2 linked regions of the Homo sapiens genome follow. The main gene of each other region encodes a partner of the protein of the gene in region 2 in a complex. Each region holds a gene or a part of one and is shown on either strand. Other genes may lie near its edges.

Region 1 (7,267 bases), on a different chromosome or scaffold from region 2:
GCTCACGGCAGTCTCCACCTCCTGGGCTTGAGCGATTGACCTACCTCAGTCCCCCAAGTAGCTGGGACCACAGGCATGTGCCACCACATCTGACTAATTTTTAAATTTTTCGTAGAGATGGAGTCTCACTATTTTGCCCAGGTTGGTCTTGAACTCCTGGGCTCAAGTGATCCACCTGCCTTGGCCTCCCAAAGTGCTGGGATTACAGGTGTGAGCAACCGCACCTGGGAATTATTGGATTCTTGTGTAGCTTTTCTAGGCCATATATGACTAACAAAAGCAGAAATCAGATGGTATATGTATGGCTCCAGGAATGTTTTGTAGATCCACAGCAGAACTGGAATGACAATACAAGGAATGCACACCATTGTCCCAGACTTCAGCTTCTAAATGTGAGAGCGAAGTGGGGTGCACCGTGAGAGCACAGGGTGGGCCTCGAGGTGCCGACGAGGGCAGACAGCAGAGCTGGGCACCACAGGGAGCTAGGGCTCTGTGAGCCGTGGCTCATCTCACACCTCCTCACTGCCTTGCATCATGGCCATGTCTGGACCCTTCTCTCCTCAGGCCTTTACCAGAAGCATTAACCGAGACAAGCACTTGGCAGTGGCTTACTTCCAACGAGGGATGCTCTACTACCAGACAGAGAAGTAAGTGGTTCAATGTTGCACCAACTGGAGGATTTCAGAGAGAAACCCAAGGGGTCTCAGTGTTGCGGGCTTGGTGTTTGAGCAGTACCTTCCCAACCTCTGTTGGGAAATGTGACTGGCCCTTCTGGGGACAGTTATGCAATAAATCAGCAGGTGAGGCAGAAGCTCTCACTGGGGAGGCAAGGCAGGTCTGCCACCAGATTATAAATCAGCTGTGTCATAGGCACAATGAGCCTAGGTAACCACCATGGGCCTGATACTCAGCTGGTGTGACACCCCACCAGTGTCCCTGATGGGGTCACCCATGTAGGTCTCCTATGAGGTACTGAGCTGTCACAGAATGGGGATGATCATGAAACTGCATCAAAACCTGGCTTCATCCCAGCAAAATGCATTTCCAAAACCTGGTTTAATCCATTTGAGGAAATATACTTCAGCTGCAAAAATGATAATACAAATTAACATTATATGTATAAGAATAAATTACTACAGATAAGTAAGTAGCGTATGCACTTATACAGAAAAAGTTTGCAGTAGATGTTAATTTTTTTTCTTTTTCCGAGACAGAGTTTCACTCTTGTTGCCCAGGCTGGAGTGCAAGGGCTCGATCTCAGCTCACCGCAGCCTCCGCCTCCCAGGCTCAAGCGATTCTCCTGGCTTACCCTCCCGAGTAGCTGGGACTACAGGCATGCGCCACCACACCCAGCTAATTTTGTATTTTTAGTAGAGATGGGGTTTCTCCATGTTGGTCAGGCTGGTCTTGAACTCCCGACCTCAGGTGATCTGCCCACCTCAGCCCCCCAAAGTGCTGGGATTACAGGCATGTGCCACCACGCCCAGCCAGATGTTAAATTTAAAAACAGATTTCAAAACAGTTCATATAGCATAGTCCCATTTCTGTATCACAGAATAAAGTCTGGAAGGCCATAGATCAAAATGTTATCAATAATTCTCTCTGGATGGTGGGATTATAGGAAAATCCATTTTCTTCTATCACCCTGTCTGCATTTTTAGGTTTGTTTATAGTCAACATGGAATAATTAGTACAAAGATTAATAAATTCAAAATGAAAGTTAATCTCAATTCCTCCTCCCTCTCATCCTGCACAAATACCTCATAACAAATAACAAAGGAAAAAAATTCTAAGTGATAATTTCAAATGTTTTGGGGCATGGGAAACTGACCCTTTGTAGAAACTGTTCCACCAGTGTGCATCAGTTCTAGGGAAGAGGAATTTGGCTCAGGCTAATGAAGAATTTTTTTTTTTTTTGAGACGGAGTTTCGCCCTGTCACCCAGGCTGGAGTGCAGTGGCGCGATCTCGGCTCACTGCAACCTCTGCCTTCCACGTTCAAACAATTCTCTTGCCTCAGCCTCCCAAGTAGCTGGGATTACAGGTGCCCGCCACTACGTCCAGCTAATTTGTGTATTTTTCAGTAGAGACAGGGTTTCACCATGTTGGCCACGCTGGTCTCGAACTCCTGACCTTGTGATCCACCCGCCTCGGCCTCCCAAAGTACTGGGATTACAGGCATGAGTCACTGAGCCCAGCCTAATAAAGAACTTTCTGACAGTGAAAATGATCTGTGCATGGTGTGGGTGGGGTGAGGGTGAGGCCGGGCGTGGATGGAGCAGCAGGGAGGTTGTAGACAATGTCCAGACATCAGAGAGAGGGCTGGGCTCTGATCCTGTGCCACCCTGAAAGGCTTTGATCCTATGGTTTGGTCAGAAACAGAGCCTGTAAAACCCATGTATGCAGCTGTTGCTAAGGGCAACCACAAGATGCTCAAAGGACCTTAAAGATGTAGATGCAGTTAGTTACCTGAAGAAGTGAAAGTAGAAGTGAAGTCTTTTCTAAAAGAAAAACCACAGACACAATGGCAATCTGGGGAGAAAGAGAGCCTGGGATTGGGAGAAGATATCCAGGCATTTAGCTCTCTCTTCCCCCCATATTTAGTGTGACATATTTATTGTGACTTTATAAATTCTTTTTTTAATTTTAATTTTTTATTTTAATGTTTGTGGGTATGCAGTAGGTGTATATATTTATGGGACACATGAGATATTTTGGTACAGCAGGTGTTTATCTTGACCGACGTCTTGCCTCTAACTGCCTGTCCCCGCTCTTAACATCCTTCTCTTTCTCACTCCCCCTTACCCCGTCTCCAGACTATAGAATATGCAGGGAGGCCTAACAACAAATCCTTCAGCCGATCTTAAATCTCAAAACGCAAACTCTAAGGTCATTCCTTAGTGACCTCTAATAGTCTATAAAGAAGAGATACAACTGGCAAAAGAGTGAAGGCTCCCAGAAAGAATTTCCTCCAAAAAATGCCCGTGAGTCCCAGGATCTGGAAGGCCACGGTTTTGAGTGATTAGAAAGATCTTGGAAACTTCTAAAAGTAAGACCCAGGATTCAATTAATCTGTGATTGGTAATATTAATAGTTACACCTGAGAGAAAAATCTACCGAGTTTTATCTGTAATTCAACAATGAGGAAATTATACAAATGAGGCACTAATCTCAACCTCAAGCAGGCCCTCTTGCGCAATTCCCTAGGTGTTGGTATTCCCTTTGAAGTTCTGTTCTTGACCCTTTTCCCTTTTACAACTGCAGCAGTGGTTGTTAAATGGCAAAATGTGTTTCCAGAAATACACTTTCAAGCACACACATTCGTTTATGTACAATTCAGGGGCTATAGATATGAAGTCCGTATGTGAACCTTGAGGATCCATTCCTGGGCAAGGCCACCCTCTCCCATATGGCTGGCCTCCATTTCTCACAGAATCTGTACCTGAGATCCATCCAGGGAATGTCTCTTTCCCTAAACCTCATCAGGTTGACCTCTTAAATATTTCTTAAATCCACCTATTTCTCTCCATCCCCACTAGCACTGCCTTGGTTGAGACCCTCATTTTTCACCAGGACTACTGCAGTCACTTCCAAACTGATTTTCCAGCCACTGCTCTTGTCCCCTCCATTCATATTCCAGAGTGATCTTGTAAAATAAAAAAAAATTTAAAAAAAGCAATCTCTGTGAGAACTTCCAGTGGCTTCCATGACTGCAAGATAAAGGCCAAATTCCCTTGCCTGTTCCTATGTGGTCCAGCTGCTGCCACCCACTCATGCATCCTCCGTGCCTTTGCCCCAGCCATGCCCAACCACTAAGGCAGCGTCTGCTCCCTCTTTTGAGCCTCCTTTTGTAATATGTCTGGCCCGTGACAGATATTTGCTTCCTGTATATATTTGTCTTCTCCACTACTCTACGAATTTCGTAAGAAATCTTTACTTACTCATGCTTGTATTTCAGTATCTAGCATAGTAGTTACTCAATAAATGAGTGTTGGATTAAATAAAAGTGAGCAAAATATAGTCTCCGTTTCAAGGAACTTATAAATTAAAAAGGGGAAACAAGTCAAGAACACCAGTAACTGTAATGCAAGGCAGAAGTGGGTAACTGCTGTAAGAGGTAGTTTTAAGTAAGCGGGATGGGGGCTAGAGAAATTACTTCTTAATGTGTGGGACAGAAATTCCCTCAGATTGGCTGGGCACAGTGGCTCACACCTGTAATCCCAGCACTTTAGGAGGCCAAGGTAGGCGGATCACCTGAGGTCAAGAGTTTGAAACCAGCCTGGCCAACATGGCGAAACCTTGTCTCTACTAAAAATACAAAAAATTAGCAGCACATGGTGGTGGGTGCCTGTAATCCCAGCTACTTGGGACGCTGAGGCAGGAGAATAGCTTGGACCTGGGAGGCAGATGTTGCAGTGAACCGAGATAACACCACTGCACTCCAACCTGGGCAACAGAGCAAGATTCTGTCTGAATAAAAAAAAAAGGAATTCCCTCAGATTACAAAAGGGAATTGTTTAAGGCTGATAATGTTATGGATGGAGGTTTTTCCCCCTCTATTTCCCTCTATTTTCCCCACTTTCGTATGTTTTTGTGTTGCTCTTCCGTCATTATAAAGTTCCAACAGAACAAAGTTAGAGCACATTTCTGAAAAGGCAAGCAGAGTCTCAGGGATAACAGCCAAGCTGTCTCGCCTCTCTAGCCCCAGCGTTGTCATCTGAAAGGCACAGGGGCTCGAAGCTGTCTTTCAGATCCTGTGCCTTATGAATCTTAGGGCATGACAATAAGGGTGAGACCCATTCCATGGAGCTGGCTTAAAGAGGCTCCATAGCAAAGCCTTCTTCCTGCTGACTTGGAAACAGGAAAGGGAGTGGGCCCAAACCTCTGTCACAGCAGCCACTGCAGCATCCCAAAGATGCCTGAAGTTTTGACTTCTTTCAGCTTGCTGAGATTCCATTGTCCTGGGTGCAGGTGTATGAGCTGTGGACTCTGGACGCATGGGGCACTGGCAGCATGGGAACAAGCAGGTTACTAAGAAACCTCCCAGGAGTATTACAGAAATGGGGATTATAAACTCTCTCAAGCCTGGAGCTTGTGAAAAGCTATGGCAAGGTTGCTGCTTCAGCTGGTGGATCCCCTGCCTGGGAGGGGAGGGGCTTTGGGTCCAGTGCAGCCAAGGCGCCCCAAGGGGTGTCACTGAAGTGTGGGTGTGAAGAAAGCACCCATGCCCAGCCCAGCAGAGCCCTGCAGGAAGCTGCCAGCACCTTGGCTGCCTCCTGGGGGATGCTTCCAAATGGCCACGAAGAGAACCGCTGAAGAAGGGCTAGAGGGAGGCGGGGGCTGCCGCAGCACGGCCCACTGGCACACAGCGCTGAATGCTATTTTGGGATTCTCATACTGAGATTATTGCGAACCTGTGTAATGGGAAAAGAGCTGTGTGTCAAAGCGGAACCCCCTTCAGGGCTGCAGCTCTGGGTAAACAAGTGGAGAGGCCGAAAAGAGGCCTGCAGCAGGGAACGAGGGGGCTGGGAAGCAGGCCGGTGCTTTCAGAGACATGTTTAAAAACGACACTTAGTTGGCGAGGCGAGGTGGCTCACGCCTGTAATCCCAGCACTTTGGGAGGCCGAGGCGGGCGGATCACGAGGTAAGGAGATCGAGACCATCCTGGCTAACACGGTGAAACCCTGGCTCTACTAAAAACACAAAAAATTAGCCGGGCGCGGTGGCGGACGCCTGTAGTCCCAGCTACTCGGGAGGCTGAGGCAGGAGAATGGCGTGAACCGGGAGGCGGAGCTTCCAGTGAGCCGAGATCGCGCCACTGCACTCCAGCCAGGGCAACAGAGCGAGACTCTGTCTCAAAAAAAAAAAACACTTAGCAAGGATGCCCCTTCCCCGTTTTAAAAATTAATTAATTAGGCCCTGTGCAGTGGCTCACAGTTGCAGTCTTTGTACTTTGGGAGGCTGAGGTGGGAGGATTGCTTGAACCCAGGAGTTCGAGACCAGCCTGAGCAACATAGTGAGACCCCCGTCTCTATAACAAAATTAATAAATAAAATAAGTAATCTTTTTTTTTTTAGAGAAGGGGTCTCACTATATTGTCCAGGCTGGCCTCAAACTCCTGGGCTCAAGTGATCCTCCTGCCCCAGCCTCTGGCGGAGTAGCTGGAACTGCAGGCTCAAACCTCAGCCCCTGGCCCCACCCTGTTTTTTTGGTTGTTGGACTTTCTTTTCTTTCTTTCTTTCTTTCTTTTTTTTTTTTTTTTGAGTCAGGATTTCATTCTGTCGTCCAGGCTGGAGTGGAGTGGTGCAATCATGTCTCACTGCAGTCTTGACTTCCTGGGCTCAGGTGATTCTCCAACCTCAGCTTCCCGGGTAGCTGGGACTACAGGCACGTACCACTATGCCTGGCTAATTTTTTGTACTTTTAGTAGAGGTGGGGTTTCTCCATATTGCCTAGGCGGGTCCACCCTGTCTTTAAAACAAAGCAAACCCTCTGAATAATTTGTCAGTTCTTTCTCTCTCTCTCCTACCAGGCCCAAATCTGTAGACACCTTTTTTTTTTTTTTGAGTTGGAGTCTCGCTCTGTCAACCAGGCTGGAGTGCAGTGGCATGGTTTTGGCTCATTTCAACCTCCACCTCCTGGGTTCAAGTGATTCTCCTGCCTCACCCTCCTGAGTAGCTGGAACTATAGGCACGCACCACCACGCCCGGCTAATTTTTAAATATTTTTAGTAGAGACGGGGTTTCACCATGTTGGCCAGGCTGGTCTCGAACCCCTGACCTCAAGTGATCCGCCTGCCTTGGCCTCCCAAAATGCTGGGATTACCGGCACGAGCCACTGCACCGGGCCTCTGTAGACATCTTGATGGGCTAGGGAATTATTAGGAGGATTTTGCTGGGCTCATGCAATGCCAGATAGACCCAGGTGGTGTCACTTCCCAGCTGAAATCCATCTGCTTAGCCAACTCAGCAGGGAGGAAGGCACGTTGGTAGGTTGATGCTGACGGCAGTTAAAGTGTGTGCCCTCTGAGACCTTCAGCGAGCTCCCAAACAGGCAATAGAACACAGTGGAAATTGCAGCTGCCAGGAAACAGGAAACCTCTGCTTCTGCCTGTCCTCTTCGCGATGGAAGAGGCTCAGTGAATTGAAGCTAGTTACCCCACCTTCTGGCTTAGAAAGCGGAACCTGATTTCTGGCGTACTTCTGGGTACCTTCTTCCTCTTTCCAGGAACCCAGAAAGATGCGTGGAAAAGACATGAAAGGCCCCATT
Region 2 (2,767 bases):
TGGCGTGGGAGGGGTGTATGGCGTGGGAGGGGTGTATGGCGTGGGAGGCGTGGGAGGGGTGTATGGCATGGGAGGGTGTATGGCGTGGGAGGGGTGTATGGCGTGGGAGGAGTGTATGGCGTGGGAGGGGTGTATGGCGTGGGAGGGAGGGTGTATGGCGTGGGAGGGGTGTATGGCGTGGGAGGGTGTATGGCGTGGGAGGGGTATATGGCGTGGGAGGGGTGTATGGCGTGGGAGGGGTGTATGGCGTGGGAGGCGTGGGAGGGGTGTATGGCATGGGAGGGTGTATGGCGTGGGAGGGGTGTATGGCGTGGGAGGAGTGTATGGCGTGGGAGGGGTGTATGGCGTGGGAGGGAGGGTGTATGGCGTGGGAGGGGTGTATGGCGTGGGAGGGGTGTATGGCACGGGAGGGTGTATGGCGTGGGAGGGGTGTATGGCGTGGGAGGGGTGTATGGCGTGGAAGGGGTTGTATGGCATAGGAGACATGTTGGCCCAGAACCCCCCCCGCCACTTAGGCCTTGGCTCTCCTGTCCATCTCCCCAACCAGACTCGGTGAAATACCTGGAGTGCTCAGCTCTCACCCAGAGAGGCCTGAAAACCGTGTTCGACGAGGCCATCCGGGCCGTGCTGTGCCCTCAGCCCACGCGGCAGCAGAAGCGCGCCTGCAGCCTCCTCTAGGGGTAAGAGTCCCCCACTCTAGTGCCCAACTCCCATACACAGCAGGCCCTGGCTGAGCAGTGGCCTTTGGTTCACTGTGAGTGGCATTTAGGCCAGGACAGAAAGAAGGTGGGTATGGAGGTTGCCTCAGTTTCCGCAGCCTACTTGTCATCTGCCTGGGCCAGTCTCACTCTCTGGAGCTCATCTTCCAGAGGCAAGGCCCAAGGTATGAATGAATGCCTGGTAACCCCCCACCCCCGGGCCAGGGAGTGGGTGTCACGGAGCCCCACTCTGCCCATTCCTGCAGGAGGTGATGGAAAAGATGCCTTGGTCCCTGGCCCTAGGAGAGCCCAGTCGAGCCAGGGAGATCCTGCACCCACATATGTGGGTGGAGGTGGGAGAGCCTGAGCTATGATCCCCAGGGGGCAGATGGTGGGGTCAGTGAGTTGGAGGCAGCCCACAAGGCCTCCTGGAGGTGTGGGACCAGAAGGACAGAGAGGACTGGTGAGGTGGGGAGAGCAGCATTGGCAGTCCTGGTGGGAGTCAAACCTTGAGCAAAGACCTGGAGGTGGGAATGAGCTGTGAGCCAGGAAGGCGAGAGCTGTGGATTCTGCATGTCCCCAAATTCTCTTTCCCTGCTTATCTTCCTTCCAGGTTGCACCCCAGCGCTCCCACCTAGATGGGTCTGATCCTCCAGGATCCCCACCCAAAGCCTGATGGCACCCCGGCTGGCCATGCTGTCCCCTCCCTGTGGCGTTTCTTAGCAGATGGCTGCAGAGCTTCGTTGATGGTCTTTTCTGTACTGGAGGCCTCCTGAGGCCAGGAACGTGCAAATTTGCAGGTGCTGCATCCCAAGCCCCTCATGCTCCTGCCTTCCTGAGGGCCAGAGGGGAGCCCCAGGACCCATTAAGCCACCCCCGTGTTCCTGCCGTCAGTGCCAACTGCCGCATGTGGAAGCATCTACCCGTTCACTCCAGTCCCACCCCACGCCTGACTCCCCTCTGGAAACTGCAGGCCAGATGGTTGCTGCCACAACTTGTGTACCTTCAGGGATGGGGCTCTTACTCCCTCCTGAGGCCAGCTGCTCTAATATCGATGGTCCTGCTTGCCAGAGAGTTCCTCTACCCAGCAAAAATGAGTGTCTCAGAAGTGTGCTCCTCTGGCCTCAGTTCTCCTCTTTTGGAACAACATAAAACAAATTTAATTTTCTACGCCTCTGGGGATATCTGCTCAGCCAATGGAAAATCTGGGTTCAACCAGCCCCTGCCATTTCTTAAGACTTTCTGCTGCACTCACAGGATCCTGAGCTGCACTTACCTGTGAGAGTCTTCAAACTTTTAAACCTTGCCAGTCAGGACTTTTGCTATTGCAAATAGAAAACCCAACTCAACCTGCTTAAGCAGAAAATAAATTTATTGATTCAAGTTTGGAGATATCGTGATTTCAGGTGCAGCTTGATCAAGGTATTCAAATGATGTCATCGAGGCTTGTTTAGCTCTGGGCTCTGCCTTCTGCTGGCTGGTTCATTCTCAGGCAGGCGACTTAGGGCTTCATCCTCCCAAGTTCAAGTTCAGGGTTTCATCCTTCCAAGTTCAAGTTCAGGGCCTCATCCTTCCAAGTTCAAGTTCAGCCAAAAAGAGCAAATGTCTATCCCAGGCAAAGTTCTAACTAAGATTTACTGTGATTGGACCAGCTTAGGTCCTGGGCCCCCTTTTAACCAATCATATTTGTCAGAGTGGTGCAGTGCTGTGCTCTGACTGGCCAGGCATGGACCATATGCCATGCTGGAACAGAACTGCGGCAACCCCAGCGAAAGCGTGTGTACTGGGGGGGAGGGTGAGTTCCAAAGTGGGCTGAGAGCCTGGCGGGAATTTGGGAATTTGGGCGAGAAACCCTCAACCTCCACTACTGGAGGTCATGGGAAAGTGTTCATTTCAGCAGTGAAATGAAACAATGCTGGACCCCGAAGGTGATAAGCAAAGGGGAGTTTCTTTAAAAGAGAGGCGGGGTTGTTGTGAGGATTTAAGAAGTTCCGACATGGGCACAACAGTGCCTGCACAGTCAGTCCCACCTCAGGACTTGCTAAGTTCTGTGGAGGTGCCAGACCTCC

The links. Proteins that work in one complex are often made in the same cells at the same time.
Region 1: RAC2 (region 2) and NCF2 share a complex: the UniProt entries of both Homo sapiens proteins name them as parts of the phagocyte NADPH oxidase complex.

What each region holds. Positions count from the first base shown.
Region 1 is NC_000001.11:183,580,275-183,587,541, reverse strand, and holds part of NCF2 (neutrophil cytosol factor 2), read left to right. Parts: intron 1-564; coding exon 565-647; intron 648-7,267. UniProt on the Homo sapiens protein: Subunit of the phagocyte NADPH oxidase complex that mediates the transfer of electrons from cytosolic NADPH to O2 to produce the superoxide anion (O2(-)).
Region 2 is NC_000022.11:37,224,584-37,227,350, reverse strand, and holds the end of RAC2 (ras-related C3 botulinum toxin substrate 2), read left to right. Parts: intron 1-547; coding exon 548-678; 3' UTR 679-680; intron 681-1,311; 3' UTR 1,312-2,081; downstream 2,082-2,767. UniProt on the Homo sapiens protein: Plasma membrane-associated small GTPase which cycles between an active GTP-bound and inactive GDP-bound state.